Homo sapiens: one gene and its partners. The protein of the gene in region 2 purifies or fractionates together with the protein of the main gene of each other region. This does not show direct contact. Each region holds a gene or a part of one and is shown on either strand. Other genes may lie near its edges.

What was found.
Region 1: the proteins of AKAP14 (region 2) and SPA17 purify together in Homo sapiens (affinity purification with mass spectrometry; 3 studies listed by BioGRID and IntAct, with this or other methods). This does not show direct contact.
Region 3: the proteins of AKAP14 (region 2) and PRKACB purify together in Homo sapiens (affinity purification with mass spectrometry; 3 studies listed by BioGRID and IntAct, with this or other methods). This does not show direct contact.

What each region holds. Positions count from the first base shown.
Region 1 is NC_000011.10:124,690,880-124,697,907, forward strand, and holds the end of SPA17 (sperm surface protein Sp17), read left to right. Parts: intron 1-816; coding exon 817-903; intron 904-3,423; coding exon 3,424-3,567; 3' UTR 3,568-6,639; downstream 6,640-7,028. UniProt on the Homo sapiens protein: Sperm surface zona pellucida binding protein. Helps to bind spermatozoa to the zona pellucida with high affinity. Might function in binding zona pellucida and carbohydrates.
Region 2 is NC_000023.11:119,898,891-119,905,918, forward strand, and holds part of AKAP14 (A-kinase anchor protein 14), read left to right. Parts: intron 1-4,323; 5' UTR 4,324-4,333; coding exon 4,334-4,502; intron 4,503-4,604; coding exon 4,605-4,696; coding exon of another isoform or gene 4,697-4,705; exon of another isoform or gene 4,706-4,769; intron 4,770-7,028. UniProt on the Homo sapiens protein: Binds to type II regulatory subunits of protein kinase A and anchors/targets them.
Region 3 is NC_000001.11:84,147,247-84,154,274, reverse strand, and holds part of PRKACB (cAMP-dependent protein kinase catalytic subunit beta), read right to left. Parts: intron 1-7,028. UniProt on the Homo sapiens protein: Mediates cAMP-dependent signaling triggered by receptor binding to GPCRs.

The DNA.
Region 1 (7,028 bases), on a different chromosome or scaffold from region 2:
GAAGTTCCATCCATTTGTGCCTGCAGGTATGGGTGTGTTCTGTGTATTTCCATTTTACTAGATTCTCTGTGCTCATGTTTTATTTGTATTCATGTTTATCGAAGTCAAAGGAATAATGTTGAAAGATTTTAAATCCTTGCATCACATAGCAATTTTGGGGTGTTTCTTTTTTTAATTCTAAAGGCTTTATTTGATTAACTTATATATTCTTAAATTTTGGTTTTATGGGTTAAAGAAGCTCTTTCCATAGGTGTGAATTAGCAATGAAGGAAGACTTAAATAGCCATGTCAAAATAGGCAGAGGTGGTTTCTCCTTTTATATTTAAATCATAAAGCAAAACTCCACAGCAAAACTTACTTCTCTGACTAGTTTTAATCCATAAACGTCACTAAAAAGTCAATTTGATGTCACATTATGGAACACAATGCCATTTATTTTATTCCTATTTTAGAAACTATTGGATCCTCTTTTTTATACTTTGTTCAGGATTCATTACATCATCTTATCAACTTTTAGTATAGGACAGTGGTTTATTTTTAACATAAAACAGTGGTACACACATTCCAAAAGCAACAGATCAAACATTTTTGCCAATTATTTGGTCTTTAATATTTGTTTACACGTATTTCCTTAAGAGCTTTTATTATTTCTTCTTGTTTCAATGTATTTTCCTTATTAAAAGATAAATACGTAGTATTTAATTCCCCCTATTTCTCAGTAATTTAAAGTAATGTTTCATTACTTCTAAGCAGTTTGATACAAGACTTTGCCATTTTGGAAACATTGCTAATTGTGGCTCTCTCCTATCTGTCCAGGAGCAAGAACCACCTGAGAAAAGTGATCCTAAACAAGAAGAGTCTCAGATATCTGGGAAGGAGGAAGAGACATCAGTCACCATCTTAGTATGTAATATTTTTCATGTACTATTGGATTCCTACAAAGAATGATATTGCCCAATTTAAAACTGAACTCCAAATATGAATGTCTGTTATCTTTATTGTCAAAATTATGACTTTACTTTCCAGATAATTAACATCAGTGATAAACTAACTGGTAGATAATTTTCAGCCATGCCTCTCTTGATCAAAAATTCATTTTTCCTTTAAAAATGAAATCTTATTTTTCAAGATTGTTAATGGATGGAAAAATCTCCCTATGGGGAAGGGCAGACAGAACTCACAGACCCAGTCATGATCCTTCAGATTCATCTTCCACTTTGGGAATTTTTCACTAATTGGTGCTGTCACCACTACACAATGGCAAATTTCAGAGATAACAAAAGGAAAATCACAGGGAATTACATACAGCCAAAATAATGGCTTTACAACAATGTGGCTTATTCATCTTCCATGCATAACGCTCTACAAAAATGCCTTCGTGCCTGATGTACTACATCCAAGCAGTCAAGACATAGCGGAGGCCGGGCGTGGTGGCTCACGTCTGTAATCCCAGCACTTTGGGAGGCCAAGGCAGGCAGATCACGAGGTCAGGAGATTGAGACCATCCTGGCTAACACGGTGAAACCCCATCTCTACTAAAAATACAAAAAATTAGCCGGGCATGGTGGCGGGCGCCTGTAGTTCCAGCTACTCGGGAGGCTGAGGCAAGAGAATGGTGTGAACCCGGGAGGCGGAGGTTGCAGTGAGCCAAGATCACGCCACTGCACTCCAGCCTGGGCGACAGTACAAGACTCCTTCTCAAAAAAAGAAAAAAAAAGACATAGCGAAGTCCACCCTCAAAGGCCCATTGTTCAGTAATGTCACTTTAATAACTTGAAGTCAGCCACAATGAGAATATTAAGACCATGGCAAACACTGCAAATCAGGGCTTTGTTTCTTCTGGAGAGCCAGTTGTTAAAACACTTACCAGTACATCATTGTCTATATTCTTCATACTCCAGACTCTTGTGGACTAGGCCTCATAAGAAAGAAGAACTCACTCTCTAAAATGTCGAAGTTCAAACTTCTGAGTTCCTTTTTATGTCTCAGGTCCCAGGTAGTTGCCCAAGAACTGGCAGCCAGAATGGATATCCCCTCAAGGAATACCCTACTTCCTACCTAGTGATGCATTGCTTTTCCCTATAAGATTTACAGGTTGTTCCACAATTGCCATTGGGTTGTACTGAAATAACATTACATTAGGATATAACAGGAAGATTAACATTAAGATGTAACAGGAAGTCAAGGAAGAAGGGAGTTTTATTTCCTTACATCTTTCATAGGTGCTTTTACACAGGTTTTCATGAGTTTGAGTAGGGATCTCATTGATTTCCAACTTGAGTGTATTTGTTTGCTATATTAGGATGTCATCTCGAAGAATTTTATACCATTCTGTTTGCATTTAAAAGTTTAAGAGCTAGATTTGTCTCATTATTTATAATAGGGGGATAGGAGGCTTGAGCAACCCAAAGGTCCATTAATATGAGATTGAGTAAATATTAAATCAAGGTACATCAGTATAATATAATGATGTCATAAAAAAAGAATGGGGAGAGTTATACACTGACTAATAATACAGAAAAAGAGAACCAAGATATATCGTTACATGGAAAAAGTAGCTGCAGAACTCTGTGATTAGGATGATCTCATTTTTAAAATAAAAAGACATATATATATATATATACCCATATGAATATATTTGCATATAGAGAAATTTTGGAAGGATGTAGATACTCAACTCATAATAATGGGTATCTCCCAAGAGCAGGATTTGGATAGGTGGAGAAAACTATCACTGCCAGTGACATTTGAGTTTTTAAAGTGTATACATGTCATTTCTATAATTTTAAAAGATATATTAAAAGCTGTATATTCAATTGTACGCTGAAGATTCATGCATTTTACTGTCTGTAAATTTATAGCTAAAAATTTATACCCAATTTTTTTAAAAGAGGGTATGTGCCAAAGTTCAACCAACCCTGTTAAAACTGACATTATTGGACTAAATGGATTTCTCTTTGGCACCTCACTTTAAATGTATGACGATGATTAACTAATCATTGAGAAATTGAGAAGTTATTCTAATTCATTATATGTAATTGTGATTATTTTGAAACATAACATTTACAGTTCTTTCTTCTTAACATTTTTACCATGCCTCAAGGATTCTTTCTTGTCCCCCCAACCCCCCAAAAAATGTTGTTGCTCAGGAAACTTAAATAGGCACTATTTTAGGGGAAAGAAAGTTGGCAATGATCTTTTGTTGCAGAGACATATTAAAAGAGTGACAAAACAAAATGCCTGCTATTTTGGCATTTGCCATTTGGTACATATACAATGTGACAATATATGAAATTCCCTCAGGAAGCAACAGCTCTCAGATAGTTGCATCCCTAAAATGATTAAATTTCATCCATTTATTTTTGTGGCATCAAAACTACGCCATATTTAAAGAGTCTCTTACTTTTTCTCCTTTCGATGAAGGACTCTTCTGAGGAAGATAAGGAAAAAGAAGAGGTTGCTGCTGTCAAAATCCAAGCTGCCTTCCGGGGACACATAGCCAGAGAGGAGGCAAAGAAAATGAAAACAAATAGTCTTCAAAATGAGGAAAAAGAGGAAAACAAGTGAGGACACTGGTTTTACCTCCAGGAAACATGAAAAATAATCCAAATCCATCAACCTTCTTATTAATGTCATTTCTTCCTGAGGAAGGAAGATTTGATGTTGTGAAATAACATTCGTTACTGTTGTGAAAATCTGTCATGAGCATTTGTTTAATAAGCATACCATTGAAACATGCCACTTGAAGATTTCTCTGAGATCATGAGTTTGTTTACACTTGTCTCAAGCCTATCTATAGAGACCCTTGGATTTAGAATTATAGAACTAAAGTATCTGAGATTACAGAGATCTCAGAGGTTATGTGTTCTAACTATTATCAAATGAATAAATCCTCTCTATCACATCCCCCAAAAATGTTCTTTAGCTCCTGTTTCACTCCTAGTGGTAAAGAATTTCACTGCTTTTTAAGGATAGTCTATTTAATTTTGGAATTTTTAGAAAGATAAGCTGGGACAAAAATCTGCCTCCTTCAGCCTGGCCAACATGGTGAAACCCCATGTCTACTAAAAGTACAAAAATTGGCCAGGCGTGGTGCGCACACCTGTAATCCCAGCTACTCGGGAGGCTGAGGCAGGAGAATCGCTTGAACCTGGGAAGTGGAGGCTGCAGTAAGCCGAGATCGCACCACTGCACTCCAGCCTGGGCGACAGAGCAAGACTCTGTCTCAAAAACAAAACAAAACAAAAAAAAGCCTCTGCCTCCTTGTAAGTTTAACCCACTGGTTTTCATTTATCATACATGTATTCAATCATTTATTGAAAATGTATTGAGTACTATTCATGTGCTGGGAATTAGTAGTGAATACTTGTTCTTACACTCATACAACTTACAATGCTTTATTGTTTTGCTCTCCAGAACCACACAGAACAAGACTAATAACATCATATTGTAAAAAGCAAAAGCTATCATATCATGCTGCCTTCTTCAGTTAAAACTTCCCAAGTTTTTAAATATACAATGGTAATGCCTGTTTAACAAACTCAGAGGCTTTATCTCTTTTATGTTTTCAATGATTCATTCAAATCCCTAGTGCCTTAGTTTTAGAAAGTTCCGTCTCTCCTTTTTGAGGCCTCTCCACCCTTGATTGTCCAAGAAACTGAGGGTTCATGTCTTAGACCAAAGGGTGCAGTTCTCTTCCCAATACAAAAGGTAGAAAGTGGAGTCTTACCATTTAGTTAATGCTGTTGCCTTCTACCATAATGTTGTAGCATAGTCCAGCAGACTGAGGTGATTCTCTGGCTGGTTCCAATTCCTGCCTGCACCATAGTGGATGGCCCATGATTTAGTTCCAGGATTACATCTCTCTTGGTTTATAGTCACAAAGCCAGTGTTCCCCCAAAGCTTAAAAACAAGCCAGGATGGCTCAGTCCTGAGGAGATTCTAAAACCAGGTCTATGTTGTCACAACAAATACTCTCCTACAAACACTTTGATCCTTGTCCTAGGCTTAGACATGCTCTTTCTGCAAAGCAGTTTTATTTCAGGTGCCTCACTGCCCTTCCCTGGCACTGAGCCTTTATCAGGCTCTGCAACAGAGGTTCCCCCAAGTGATCGCCACTCAAACACAGTTGATTCACACCAACCCTTTCAAGGTTGTGGCTTTCATTCTCTAATGTCCACTCATACAGGCAGCCTTTCTCCTTCCAAAATCTTGCTGCCACTGTAGAGAGTTTCATGCTAGCTAAACACAAGTCTCTAATATCCCCCTTCCTCTCCTCCTTAACCCCTCTCCTCCAGGCTTACAGAGGAAAAGAAATCAGTTCTCCTCCAGGATTCCAGCTGTTCGTCCCTCCCATTCCACTGAAAGCACCAGCTTCTAACACCTTCCCCTCTCAGACAGAGCCATCCTGCTTAGCGGATTGTCAAGGGGGGACCCAGAATTTATGCAAAGACTTAGATTCCCTGACCTGGAGAGATCAGAAGAGGAAAAAAGGGATTTTTTCCCTAGTGAGTATATAGCAGGAAAAAAAAAAAAGATGAGTTAGCTTTTTCAGTAATTCTCCTGTTATACACATAAAGTGACTAGCACTATGCATTCCATACACACACACACACACACACAGATCTCATGGTAGTGATATTGGTAGTGAAGGAGGAAAAGGAAAAGGTGAGCAATGGATGTGATATTATGAGAACAACACATATGAATGACACTTTATTAGAACTTATCTGGTTTTCCTCTTATCTCTCTGGCTGTTCCTTCTCAATTCCCTTCACTGGTAACTCTTCAACTCCCCAACCACTAAATGCTAAGTGCCCTTAGGCTCAGTCTTTCGACCCCATTTCTACACTCACTTGATTTCCTGCAGTTTCATAGCTTTAAAATCCAATCTTCTTAATGATCACTCCCAGACCTTTCTCTCCTCTGCCTGCGAACTTCTATATTCAACTGCCTACATAACATCCCCATTTGGATGTCTATAGGCATCTCAAAAGTAACATATAAAAAATGAATCCTGATATTGCCCCCAAATCTGAAACTTCCCCCACACCCAAGTTTTTCCATTCAAAAATGGCTGCTCCATTCTTCCATTTGCTCAGGCCAAAAACCTTGGATTCATCTTTAATGCGTCACTTTCTTTCACACCCCATATACAATCTATCAGCAAAACCTGTGGGCTGTACCTATAAAATAATACTCAGAATCTGCCTACTTCTAACCACTTCCATTGTTACCGCCTTGGTCCTAGTTCCCATGATAGCCTTGTGAATTATTGCAATAACCTATATTGGCCAGTGATTATCTCACTACTACTGCACAACCCATTCCAAAGTTAGTGGTTTAAGACAATTATATTTTCTCCTGGGTCTGTAGGTCAGTGGTAATGTAGCTAAGCTAGGCTGGACTACAATCTCAAGGTTAGGTTCAGGTCAGCTCTAAGCTGTGGGTTTGTGGGCTGACAGGAAGGTCTGCTTCAGGCTGTGGGCCCAAGGGTCAGCTGCAGCACAGTGCCTCTGCTTCACGTGTCCTTTTCTGAGCCCCTGCTGAAAGACGTTATCCAGGACAAGCTCTTCTCATGCTGGTCACAGAAGACAAGCAGGAAAACCCAGCATGCAAGAATATTTCAAGCTTTTGCTCATATCACTTCCACTGACATCCCATATACAAAAGAAAGTCATCTAATGAAGCCCAAAGTGAGGAGGATGAGGAAATACACTGTTCACCAATAGCAAAGGCTTCATGTGTGCATAATACTACTACAGGGTAGTGAAGAATTGCGACCAGTAATTTAATCTACCACGATCTGCTTTCTTGATTATAATTATGTCTTTACCACATGCAAAAATTGACCCACTCCTATCCCAAAACCCCTAAAAGTTCCATCACATCTTTGAAATCCAGGATCTCATGATCTACATCAGGTCCAGATATAGCCCTTCTTGATATAGAGACCTATGAATTAAAAGAGCAAGCATCTTTTTATCACATACCAAACATACAACAAATGATGGAATAGAGACAATAAT
Region 2 (7,028 bases):
AGGCGCGATGGCTCACACCTGTAATCCCAGCACTTTGGGAGACTGAGGTGGGTGGATCAGGAGGTCAGGAGTTCAAGACCAGCCTGGCCAAGATGGTGAAACCCCGTCTCTACTAAAAATACAAAAATTAGCTGGGCGTGGTGGCAGGTGCCTGTAATCCCAGCTACTCGGGAGGCTGAGGCAGCAGAATTGCTTGAACCCAGGAGGCGGAGGTTGCAGTGAGCGGAGATCGTGCCACTGCCCTCCAGCCTGGGTGACAGAACAAGACTCTGTCTCAAAAAAAAAAAAAAAAAAAGGAAGAAAGAAAATGTGAGAATAGGGCCCTACTGCTCTTTCTCAATCTTGGAGGGAGAAGAGCAGCACAGTTGAGAGCATGGGCTGTGAAGCCAGACACTGTGGGTGTACAGCTCAGTTTCCTCATTTTCACATGGCAGCAACAGGCCCTCTGTCTGTGACTCAGGGCTCCTGTAGGAAACTGTTGGCATATTAAAATGAGGATAGCTGTAGAAGGGTTAAGTAAGGGAATATTTACAAAGGTGTGGCCAGATTGCAGGGCAACAGAGGAAGGTGCAGCTCCCCGGGGCTAGTAACAGTGGGCCTAAAACGTTGAGGGGAGAGAATGCTTACCCTTACCACACTGGGAAGCTGGGAGAGCGCCACCCTGAAAGACGCTGGGGACTTCATGCAGCCAGCCATCAGCCAACTCGCAGGGAGAAAACCACCAGGGACATACATTTTGACTTCCTGATCTCCTTATTGTGTGGAACCCCCTAGAAGCCAGAGGGCACCATTTATGGGTGCAGTCAGGTTAGTTTTCCAGGGCAGGAAGCAGGAGGAGATGCAAGGACAGTGGATTTGGAAAGGCAAATGGAAGGTGCCCAGCGCACTCTTTCATAGGGCTGTGATGACAGTTAAATGAAACATAGCACATTAAACACCCCCAAATTGGGAGCTGTTATTTATAGAAAAATAGCTCCATTTGGAGAGAGATACCCACTTTCATGTAGCCCTTCCACTCAATGGAAGGATTGCTTGCAACATACTTATTTTTTATTTTTTGAGACAGCCTTGCTCTGTCACCAGGCTGGAGTGCAGCGACACAATCTCGGCTCACTGCAACCTCTGCCTCCCGGGTTCAAGCAATTCTCCTGCCTCAGCCTCACGAGTAGCTGGGATTACAGGTGCTGGCCACCATGCCAGTCCAACTTTTTTTTTTTTTGAGATGGAGTCTCACTCTCATTGCCCAGGCTGGAGTGCAATGGCGTGATCTGGGCTCACCACAACCTCCGCCTCCCAGATTCAAGCGATTCTCCTGCCTCAGCCTCCCGAGTAGCTGGGATTACAGGCACGTGCCACCACACCTGGCTAATTTTTGTATTTTTAGTAGAGACGGGGTTTTGCCTTGTTGGCCAGGCTGGTCTTGAACTCCTGACCTCAGGTGATCCACCCGCCTCGGCCTCCCAAAGAGCTGGGATTACAGGCATGAGCCACCAAACCTGGCCCAGGCCAATTTTTGTATTTTTAGTAGAGATGGGGTTTCTCCATGTTGGCCAGGCTAGTCTCAAACTCCTCACCTCAGGTGATCTAACCCCTTGGCCTCCCAAATTGCTGGGATTACAGGCGTGTGCCACCGTGCCTGGCCATGTTTTTTATTTTCTCTGAGACAGGGTCTCGCTCTGTCACCCAGACTGGAGTACAGTGGTGAGATCACGGCTCCCTGCAGCCTCGACCTCCCAGGCTCAAGTGATCCTCCTACATCAGCCTTGTGAGTAGAAAGCTGGGATTACAGGCACACATCACCATACCTGGCTAATTTTTTAAACTTTTGTAGAGATGGGGCCTTGCTATGTTGTCCAGGCTGATCTCAATCCCCTGCACTTAAGCGATCCTCCCACTTTGGCCTCCCGAAGTGCTGGGATTACAGGCCTGAGCCACTGCACCCGGCTGCCTGTAAGGAATTTAAAGCTGTGCTGGAAGTAAGCAATTTTTCATAAGCAAAGAGACTTAAACAGTAGCAAGAAAAGAAAGGATTTAAGACTCAAGGGAAAAGATGTAAAAAACATTGAAAATGAGGAAAGACTTCTAGCTCTGTGATGGAGCCATCTTTACAGCCCTAGTAACACAAATTTTCACATTGTCAATACATGTTAAAGGCATCTGGAAGATTATAGCTATCATTTATGATAAAAATCTTACTAGAACAGGAACAGACGAATGTTTTCTTGATGTGATACATCTCAAACCACAAACCAGCATCATACTAATGGTGTAACACCAGAAAGCAAGGCCATTAAAGTCAGACACAATAGGAGGATGCTCATTATTTCCACTTTCATTTTACATTTTTCTGGAAGTATTAACCAAAGCTAATACTCATAAGAGATATATACTCCTGGAAAAAAGATGATAAAAGTGACAGTTTATTGGAGATGATATAATTGTATACTGTACTGGAAAAACCCAAGAGAGAGAATTATGAAACCAATATTCCTCTGCTGTAATGCCTCTACTCATTTTAACACTATCTTTATAGGCCAGGTGTGGTGGCTCACACCTGTAATCCCAGCACTTTGGGAGTCCAAAGTGGGTGGATCACTTGAGGTCAGGAGTTCAAGACCAGCCTGGCCAACATGGTGAACCCCCGTCTCTACTAAAACTACAAAAAATTAGCCAGGCATGGTGGCACACGCCTGTAGTCCCAGCTACTCGGGAGGCTGAGACAGGAGAATCACTTGAATCCGGGAGGCGGAGGTTGCAGTGAGCCAAGATTGTGCCATTGCACTCCAGCCTGGGCGACAGAACGAAACTTTGTCTCAAAAAAAAAAAAAACACTATCTTAGCCGGCGCGCTGGCTCACGCCTGTAATCCCAGCACTTTGGGAGGCCGAGGCGGGTGGATCACCTGAGGTCAAGAGTTCGAGACCAGCCTGGCCAACTTGGAGAAACCCCATCTCTACTGAAAATACAAAATTAGCCGGGCGTGGTGGCGCATGCCTCCAATCCCAGCTACTCGGGAGGCTGAAGCAGGAGAATCACTTGAACCTGGATTCTCCCGGGAGGCGGAGGTTGCGGTGAGCCGAGATAGCGCCATTGCTCTCCAGCCTGGGCAACAAGAACAAAACTCTGACTCAAACAAACAAACAAACAAACAAAAAACAAAACACTGTCTTTATACTTTTTTTTTTTTTTTGAGATGTAGTCTCCCTCTGTAGCCCAGGCTGGAAGGCTGGAGTGCAGTGGTGCGATCTCGGCTCACAGCAACCTCTGCCTCCTGGGTCCCGGTTCAAGCAATTCTCCTGCCTCAGCCTCCTGTGTAGCTGGGATTACAGGCATGAGCCACCATGCCCAGCTAATTTTTGTATTTTTAGTAGAGACGAGGTTTCACCATGTTGGCCAGAGTGGTCTTCAACTCCTGACCTCGTGATATGCCTGCCTCAGGCTCCCAAAGTGCTGGGATTACAGGCGTGAGCCACCGCGCCGGGCCTTTATATTTCTTTTTAAAAGTTAAGACAGGTTGGGGAGTGGGGAGATCTCACTATGTTGCCCAGGCTGGTTTCAAACTCATAGCCTCAAACTGTCCCCCTGCTTCAGCCTCCTGAATAGCTGAGATTACAGGCACATGCCACCACACCCACTTCATTTTAACATCATTTTAAAAGAGCCAGGTGCCCTCAGTTGCTCCTAGCAGGGATTGGGTTTCTTATCAAAGATTCAACTTGGAATCAATATTGCTAGGCACTCCAAAGAAGTGCTACTTTTTTTCTACTACATTTTGATTTAAGTCATTATGGTGTTTTTTTTGTTTTTTGTTTTGTTTTTGAGATGGAGTTTTGCTCTTGTTGCCCAGGCTGGAGTGCAATGGCGCGATCTTGGCTCACTGCAACCTCCACCTCCCAGGTTCAAGCAATTGTCCTGCCTCAGCCTCCCAAGTAGCTGGGATTACAGGCGCCCGCCACCACACCCGGCAAATTTTGCATTTTTAGTAGAGACGGGGTTTCACCATGTTGGTCAGGCTGGTCTTGAACTCCTGACCTCAGGTGATCCGCCCGCCTCGGGCTCTCAAAGGGCTGGGATTACAGGCGTGAGCCACCGCGCCGGGCCTCATTATGATTTTGAGAATGTGAGAATCCTTGGTTTTCAGGAAAAGTAGATAGCAGCAGCCAGGCACAGGTCTGACTCCTACCCTTAAACCCCTAATCCCCTCCCTAGAGGCAATAACTGCTTCCTGTCTCTTGTGATTCTTCAAGAGATGATCTGTACTTATATGAGTGCGTTCACATGTGTGTACACACACAGGCACACAGTAACTTCTTTTTTTCCCCAGGAAAAAGAAAATGAGTGAGACTCAAAATTCAACAAGCCAGAAAGCAATGGATGAGGATAACAAAGCCGCAAGCCAAACAATGCCGAATACACAAGACAAGAACTACGAGGATGAATTGACTCAAGTAGCTCTAGCTCTGGTTGAGGATGTCATCAATTATGCTGTTAAGATTGTGGAAGGTAGTGATCCTGTTTGTTTGGATGCCTAAATAATTGTCTATATAGTCTAAATATAGCACCACACTACCTGGCAACTAACGAACTCACACCTTTTTTTTGCAGAGGAGCGAAACCCTTTGAAAAACATCAAGTGGATGACTCACGGTGAATTCACTGTGGAAAAGGGTCTTAAACAAATTGACGAATATTTTTCGGTAAGTTAGGCCGACCACTCCAGCATGGTACACCGGTGTGAAGAACAATAAAGAGACTCTCAGCAGATCAAAAGTTTGAAGTCTGGAAAATCTAGGAGATGGTATCAAAGGGGGCTGACTAGAATAAGTAAACATCATCTCCATCTCAGTTCCAAAATCAAGGTGGGATAGTCTTTGAAGGTGAAATGCACAATCACAATCATTTTCCCTGTGTCTGTATCATTCTAACCTTACATTTCCCTGGGAAAATCTGCTCTTCCTACTTAAGCAATTTGTCCATGCTGGTGCATTAAATGGGGGCCTAGTGGCCTAAGGAGGGAGATGCTCCTCCAAAATAGGAGTTCTCCACCACCATTATTTTGTTTATTTTTTTTAGAGACAGGGTCCCACTCTGTCACCGAGGCTGCAGTGCAGGGGCTCGATCCTAGCTCCCTGCAGCTTTGAACTCCTGGGCTCAAGCGATCTTCCCACCTCAGCCTTCCAAGTAGACAGGCACGTGTCACCACACCTGGCTAATTTTTAATTTTTTTTTGTAGAGACAGGGTCGTGCTATGTTGCTCAGGTTGGCCTCGAACTCCTGGCCTCAAGGGATCCTCCTGCCTTGGCCTCCCAAAGTGCTGGGATTACAGGTGTGAGCCATTGCACCCAGCCTCCACCACCAACTTTAGAATGCTCCTGTTAACAGAGGGGATGCAGATGGATCAAAAGACTTTTTGATTTGGCTTTGGAATATATTGCCTGCATAGTAAGATGTACAATCCCATGAATTCCTTTGTTCTTCTGCCTGTGTCTGACTCTGACTTCTTCGTGTGGCAGCTTTGCTGAGAAGGCCCTGGATTACTTTGCATAACTGGTGAGTGAATAAAGGAGAATGGCTTGGGCCAGGCGCAGTGGTTCACATCTGTAATCCCAGCACTTTGAAATACCAAGACGGGAGAATCAATCATTTGAGCCTAAGAGTTTGAGACAGCCTGGGCAACATAGTGGGACCCCATCTCTATAAAACTAAAAAATTAGGCCAGGCATAGTGGCTCACGCCTGTAAGCCCAGCACTTTGGGAGGCCGAAGTGGGCAGATCACAAGGTCAGGAGTTCAAGTCCAGCCTGGCCAATATGGTGAAACCCCGTCTCTATTAAAAATACAAAAATTAGCCAGGCGTGGTGCTGGGCGCCTGTAATCCCAGCTACTCGGGAGGCTGAGGCAGAAGAATCGCTTGAACCCAGGAGGCAGAGGTTGCAGTGAGCTGAGATTACACCACTGCATTCTCAATCCTGGGCGACAGAGCAAGACTCCGTCTCAAAAAATAATAATAATAATTAGCCGGGCGTGGTGGTATGCACGTATAGTTCCAGCTACTCAGGAGGCTGAGGTGGGAGGATCACTTGAGCCCAGGAGGTCGAGGCTGCAGTAAGCTGTGATTGTGCCACTGCACTCAGCCTGGGTGACAGAGTGAGACCCTGTCTCAAAAAAAAAAAAGGCTTGAAATCCTTCTCATTGTGCTTCTGTGGAACAGAGACCAGTTGAAATTGGTGGAGGCGAACTCCCCTACCCCTGGGAAAAGTTCCAGCTCTCTCTGTTCCCCAGGCCAGCACCTCAAAGCCTACAGCCCTCAGGGCAGTTTCCCAGGCCTTAGGAAGGCCTGGTCAGGTGTGAAGGAGGAAAAGTCAGGGATTTCTGGCTCCACGCCTTCTATGCTCCAGCGGACGCCACTCACCGTTCTCATTAGGAGGGGTATCTTGAGCATAGTGAAGATGAATGGTGCAAGTTATTCTTGAGCCTTCCTGCTGTGGAGCACTTCTCCATTTGGGGTTGGGCAAAGGCCCCTGCCTACTGCACTCAGGGTTCCTGAATCAAACTAGAATGGAACACATAGCAAGTAGGAAAAATTTCCCTTGCAAATCCCACTGGTCATTCTGAGTAAAAGGCAAAAGTAAGTCCTGACAATGGTCTACAAGGCCCAATATGATCTGAGTTCCCTTTCCCCTCCTGATTTATGGTTCAGCTCCCATCACTCCTTCCCCCCTCTCACCTTCTTCCCTCGGCCACACTTGCCTCCTTGCCGTTCCTCGACTGCCAGGCATGTTCCCCTGTCAGGACCCTTGCTCTTGCTGTTCCCTCTGCCTGGAACCCTCTCCCCTAAGATGTATACCCATGGCTCACTGCTTTACCTCCCTTCAGATCTTTGTTGAAAACTATCACCTGCTCATTGAGGCTTTTCTTGGCCACTTCATCTAAAATCACAACCCTCTCCACTTCTCTGATTCATTTTTCCCTTCGCACTTCTTTCTGCCTACTAGAGTCTATTTACTTGTCCTACTGCCTGTCTTCCACC
Region 3 (7,028 bases), on a different chromosome or scaffold from region 2:
GGAGTTCATATTGAAAATATATAAGGAACTCAAACAACTCAATAGCAAGAAAACAAATACCCAATTTAAAAAATGGGCAGGTGACTTGAATAGGCATTTCTCAAAAGCAGACATAAAAATGGTCAATGGGTATATGAAAAATGCTCAACATCACTACTCATGAGGGTAATGAAAATTAAAATCACAATGAGCTACTACCTCACATCTGTTAGAATGGCTATTATAAAAAAGACAAAAGATAACAAGCACTGGTTAAGACCTGGAGAAAACAGAACCCTTGCACACTGTTGGTGAGAATATACATTAGTACAGCCATTATGGAAAATGATATGAAGGATCCTCAAAAAATTAAAAATGAACTATCATATGATCCAGCTTCTAAGTATGTATCAAAAGAAAGAAATCAGTATGTCTAAGAGATATCTAGATATCTGTACTCCCATGTTCATTACAGCATTATTCACAAGATATGGCATCGACGTATGGTATTCTACACACTGGAATACACTATCAACCTTAAGAAAGAAGGAAATTCTTTCATTTGTGATAGAGTGAATGAACCTGGAAGACATTATATTAAGTGAAATAAGGCAGACACAGAAACACAAATATTGCATAATGTCACACATGTGGAACCTAAAAACATCAAAATCGCAGAAGTAGAGAATAGAATGCTGGTTGTCAGGGGCTGAAGGATGGGAGGGTTCAGGGAAGGAAGATTTAGGAGATGTTGGCTAAAGGGTACAAAATTTCACTTAGACAGGATGAATAAGTCCTGGAGATTCATCGTATAGAATGGTAACTGCAGTTAATAATAATGCATTAATACAGGCACACCCCTCATTTTATTGTGTGTTGCTTTATTGCACTCAGCAGATATTGCACTTTTCACAAATTGAGGGTTGGGGCAACCTTGTGTCAAGCAAATCTGTTGGTGCCATTTTTCTTACAGCATGTGCTCACTTCATGTCTCTGTGTCACATTTTAATAATTTTCACAATATTTCCTTTTTCATTATTATTATATCTGTTATGGCGATCTGTGTTCAGATGTTACTATTTTAACTGTTTTAGGGCACCACAAACTGCACCCAAATAAAATGGTGAGCTTAATTGATAAGGGTTGTGTGTGCTCTGACTGCTCCACTCACCAGCTAGTCCCCCATTTCTCTCCCTCTCCTTGGGCCTTCCTATTCCCTAAGACACAGCAATACTGAAATTACGCCGATCAATAGCCTTACAATGGCCTCTTAGTGTTCAGACGAAAGGAAGAATTGCACATCTCTCACTTCAAATCAAAAGCTAGAAATGATTAAGCTTAGTAAGGATGGTATGTTGAAAGCTGAGACAGGCCAAAAGCTAGGCCTCTTGCACCATACAGCCAAGCTGAGAATGCAAAAGAAAAAAGTTACTGAAGGAAACTAAAAGTGCTGCTCCAGTGAACACACTAATGATAAGAAGGCAAAACAGCCTTATTGTTGATATAGAGAAAGTTGTGTGGTCTGGAAAGATCAAACCAGTCATAGCATTTCCTTAAGCCAAAGCCTAATTAAGAACAAGGCCTTGACACTCTTCAATTCTATAAAGGCTAAGAGTGGTGAGGAAGTTGCAGAAGTCTGAAGCTAGCAGAGGTTGGTTCATGAGGTTTAAAGGAAAGAAGCCCTTTCTATAACATAAAAGTACAAGGTGAAGCAGCAAGTGCTAATGGAGAAGCTGCACCAGGTTATCCAGAAGATCTAGCTAAAATAATTGATGAAGGTGGCTAGACTAAACAACAGATTTTCAATGCAGAATTAACAGTGCTCTATTGGAAGAAGATGCCATCTAGAACTTTCCTAGCTAGAGAGAAGGCAATGCCTGGCTTCAAAGCTTCAAAGGACAGGCTGACTCTCGCTAGGGGCTAATACATCTGGTGACTTCAAATTGAAGCCAATATTCATTTACCATTTAGAAACTCTTAGTGCCCTCAAAAACTATGCTAAATCTACTCTACCTGTACTCTATAAATGGAATGTGAAAGGCTAGATGACACCATATCTGTTTGCAGCATTGTTTACTATTTTAAGCCCACCATTGGGAACCACTCAGAAAAAGATTCCTTTTAAAATATTAGTGCTAATTGACAATGCACCTGATCACCCAAGAGCTCGATGTACAAGGAGATGAACGTTGTTTTCATGCCTGATAACACAACATCCATTCTGCAGGCATGGATCAGGTCTTATTATTTAAGAAATATATTTTATAAGGCTAAAGGTGTCACAGATAGTGATTCCTCTGATGGATCTGGGCAAAGTAAATTGAAAACCTTCTGAAAAGGAGTTACCATTCCAGATGCCGTAAGAACATTGTGATTTATGGGAGGAGGTCAGAATATCAACATCAACAGGAGTTTGGAAGAAGTTGTTTCCAACTCTCATAGATGCGTTTGAGCGGTTTAAAATTTCAGTGGAGAAAGTCACTGCAGATGTGGTAAAAAATTACAAGATAATTAGAATTAAAAGTGGAGCCTGGAGATGTGACTCTATTGCTGCAATCTCCTGATAAAACTATAACGAGTGAGGAGTTGCTTCTTGCAGATGAGCAAAGAAAGTAGTTTCTTGAGATGGAATCTATTTCTGGTGAAGATGCTGTGAAGATTATTGAAATGACACCTGAGAATTTAGAATATTACATCAACTTAGTTGGTAAAGCAGTAACAAGGTTTGAGAGAACTGACTCCAATTTTAAAAGAAGTTCTACTGTGGGTAAAATGCTACCAAAAACATCACATGCTACAGAGAAATCTTTTATGAAAATAAGAGTCAGTCAAGTGTGTCACTTTGTTGTCTTATTTTAAGAAATTGCCACTGCCATCCCAACCTTCAGCGACCATCACCTTGATCAATCAGCAGGCAAACATCAATGCAAGACCCTCCACCAGCAAAAAAATTGGGAAATGCTGAAAGCTGAGATGATCATTAGTATTTTTTTAGCAATAAAATAATTTCAAATTAAGATATGTACTTTTAAAAAGATATAATGTTATTGCACACTGAATAGACTATAGAGTAAACATAACTTAAATGCACTGGGAAACCAAAAAATGTGTGACTTGCTTTACTGTGACTTTAGTTGTATTGTGGTGGTCTGGAACTGGACCTGCAGTATCTCTGAGGTATGACTACATGAAAATTGCTAAGAGATTCAATCTTAAATTTTTTGCCATGAAAAAGTAACTATGTGAGGTGGATATTCATTTGTTTTAGTCATTTCACAATGTATACTTATATTGAACCATCATGTTGTACATTATAAATATACGCAATTTTATTTGTCAAGTATACCTTAATAAAGCTGAGGGGGAGGGAGGAAGAAATAAACTTTCCAGTGTCAACTTATTAAGAATGGAGTTAAATTCTCAAATCCATATTTTTCACATTCAGATTTTTGTTATGGACTGGTCTATTTTGGCATTACTATAAAGAAATACCTAAGGCAGAATAATTTATAAAGAGATTTATTTTGGCTCATGGTTCTGCAGACTGTAGAAGAAGCATACTGCCAACATCTGCTTCTGATGAGGGCCTCAGGAAGCTTTCAATGATGGCAGAAGGCAAAGAGGGAGCAGGCATGTCACAGGCAAAGAGAGGGAGCAAGAGAGAGGGGGAAGTGCCATGTTTGTTTTAAAAAAACAACCAGTTATTGCATGAACTAATAAAGCAAGAACCAGCTCATTACCCATTGGGAGGACACCAAGCCATTCATGAGAGATCCTCCCCCATGACCCAAACGCCTCCCATTAGGCCCCACCTCCAACACTGGGGATCACATTCCAACATGAGATTTGGAGGGGACAAACATATAATGTTCTTACCATGACCCTGGTAGTTGTAACAGAAGGAAGTATAATGGGCCATTATATTTTTAATTTTTAAAAATATCAATATACTGTTTTGAGAATAAATTTTACAATGTTAAATGTGTTTTCTTTATTTTATTTTATTTTAATTTATTTTGAGATAGAGTCTCACTCTGTCACCCAGGCTGGACTGCAGTGGTGCAATCTCACCTCACTGCAGCCTCTGCTTCCTGGGGTCTAGTGATTCTCCTGCCTCAGCCTCCCAAGTAGCTGGGATTACAGGTGTGCGCCACCACACCTGTAGATGGAGCCTGGCTAATTTTTGCATTTTTAGTAGAGACAGGGTTTCACCATGTTGGCCAGGCTGTTGTTGAACTCCTGACTGCAAGGGATCTGCCCACCTCAGCCTCCCAAAGTGCTGGGATTACAGGCGTGAGCCACCACACCTGGCCTTAAATTTGTTTTTAAAAATATCATTAAGGATAGTAGCTATATAATTATTTTCACACATTCTCAAGTGCTATAATCTATGAAAAAATAATTATTATAATAATTAACTCCAAAAAGATATGCATGTTTATCTGGGATTCAATTAATTTAATGCAAAAGCCTTAAAATGGTCATAACTTCTTCAAATTAATCCTATAAAATATAAAAATAATCCTAAATATGTACAAATATTTAGTTATAAAGATGTTTATCATGGCATTTTTTAATAGCAAAACATTAAAAACAGCCTAGATGGCCAATGATTGGTTAAATAAATTATAGTATATCCTTATGATTTAATACAAAATAGTATTGTAGAACAACTCTTTATAAAGAAAAATGTTAACTAAACATTATGTTTTGAAAGATCCAAATTCTGGAGCTGGGCTGGGTGCAGTGGCTCAGGCCTGTATTCCCAGCACTTTGGGAGGCCAAGGCAGGCAGATCACTTGAGTTCAGGAGTTCAAGATCGACCTGGGCAACATGGTGAAACTCCACCTCTACCAAAAATACAAAAAATTAGCCGGGTATGGTGGCACATGCCTATAGTCCCAGCTACTTGGGAAACTGAGATGGGAGGATCGCTTGAGCCTGGGAGGCAGAGGCTGCAGCGAGTCGAAATCCCACCACTGCACTCCAGCCTGGGTGACACGGTAAGACTCTGTTTAAAAAAAAAAAATTGGAGCTGGTAGAAATTTGTGTGTCTATACACAAAATAGAGTATATATACAAAAATTAACAGTCATTACCTTTTGGCAGAATTATGTATACTTTTTTTTACCTTTTTGTTTTTTCCTGTAGTTTCAAAATTTTCTCCAGTGAAGATATACATTTGGAAATCATATTAAAATGTTATTAGGGAAAAAGTGCTTCTCACACCTTAATGTGCATATAAATCAGCTGGGAAATCTTGTTAAAATGCTGATTCTGACTAAGTAGGTCTAGGTGGGACCTGGGATTCTTCCTCCTAACAAGCTCCCAGGAGATGCTAATAATGCTGGACAGGGACCACACTTTGAGTAGCAAGCTGTCTTCTAACTCTGTCATATGGCTATTTTTGCAAAGCACAAGCAAGTAAAAGCTTCTCGTTATGTTAGTACAGTTGATATAGTACTTGCATTGCTAAATGGCTCATGGAATGATTTCCTGATTTCAACATCATTTAATATCCCAACTATTTTAGTTTTACTATAAAGTCTGCTTGTTACTTAAATTTTTATTGGAAATCATGATAAAAATACACAGGTAACACTGAAAATTGGTATTTACTAGAGCCAGGTCAGCATTTGACTGCTTTTGGTTAATGGCCATGGGCTTTTAAAATAAATTGCAAAGATCACAATAGCACAAATTAGTAAGAAGCTCATTTGTGTAATACTGCAGTGATGTTTAATGTTAATTTAACAAATAACTCAAGATTTATTGAAAATTATGCTAGTAATACTGAAATAAACTGACAAGTTATTTGCCTTCAAGGAGTTCAAAATCAAACATGAGAGACAGATACATAAGGATTAATAGTAATGCATTTTAAATATTATAAACTATAATATATATAGTATACAAACTATACCATATAAATACTATAAATAAACCACAATAAAAGTTAAGTATAAGATGATATAAGAACATAAGGAAGAGCACAGACTCTAAGAAGGATGAAGGATAGATGAATAGGATACATTGGTGGTTTTGTTACAGAGATGATACCTGAGAGGATGCCTAAAGTATGGGCAAATCTCACCACTGGTAGAAGTGAAGAAAGAGAATTCCAGACAGAAGCAGCAACTTGAACAAGCACTGTTGTAAAAGGAATCCATTATCTGACTATTCATTGCCATGCTGACTGTCACGTCAAAAGCGTTAGTTCTAATTAAATGCCCAGCAAAAACGGAAGATGTATAGTAGCTATACACATTTCTCTGTAGTAAAGTAAGTTAACTTATCCTGTATTATGCTAGTTAAAATCTTTAGGCTCTTTTAACAAAGGTTGCATTATATTATTTTCCACTTTAAAAAACTGCATTGGCTCCCCACTAATACAGCGTAGTACAAAATTCTGGATGTCTAATAGAAAACTTTTAAAGTTTAAATCCAGAACCTAATTTTCTAGACAGTATCTTACTAAACCTTTTAAGTAAGTTCTAAATGTTCATATTTTCAAATACTTGTGTATGTTATTTTCTTAAAATAACCTTCTTCTCTAGGTCTCAAAATTCTATTCATTCTTTAATATTTTTGAAGTCCCCCATTTTCTCTTTAGTAACAACTTTTTTCTTACACTTAGCTTCCACAGTAAGCTTAGACATTTTAAAGCAACTATTTCATTATGCCTTGAATATTATATTATGTTTGCTCTTCTTTTTGGGGGTAAGAACTAGATCTTATTTTTCCTGGAAACTTGCTTACTTACTATGATATAGTAAATACTCAAAAAAGTTTTACCAAATGAGTAGAAATTGACTATTATCAAGAAGCTTATGGAATAGTTTCAAGTGGAAAAAGCTGATAAAAAGACAAAGGTGGAAAGTCTTTTAGCTGAGAAGTTAAAATGATACAGATTCAATGGGCTAACAAATAGGAGGTAAACTGTCTGAGAGATTGTATAAAATTTGCAAAGGTAAAACTGACTGAAGTGGTCTACTGTAACCACTTTATGATTTTGCTAGAGGACATCCATAATCAAAACTGCTCATTTG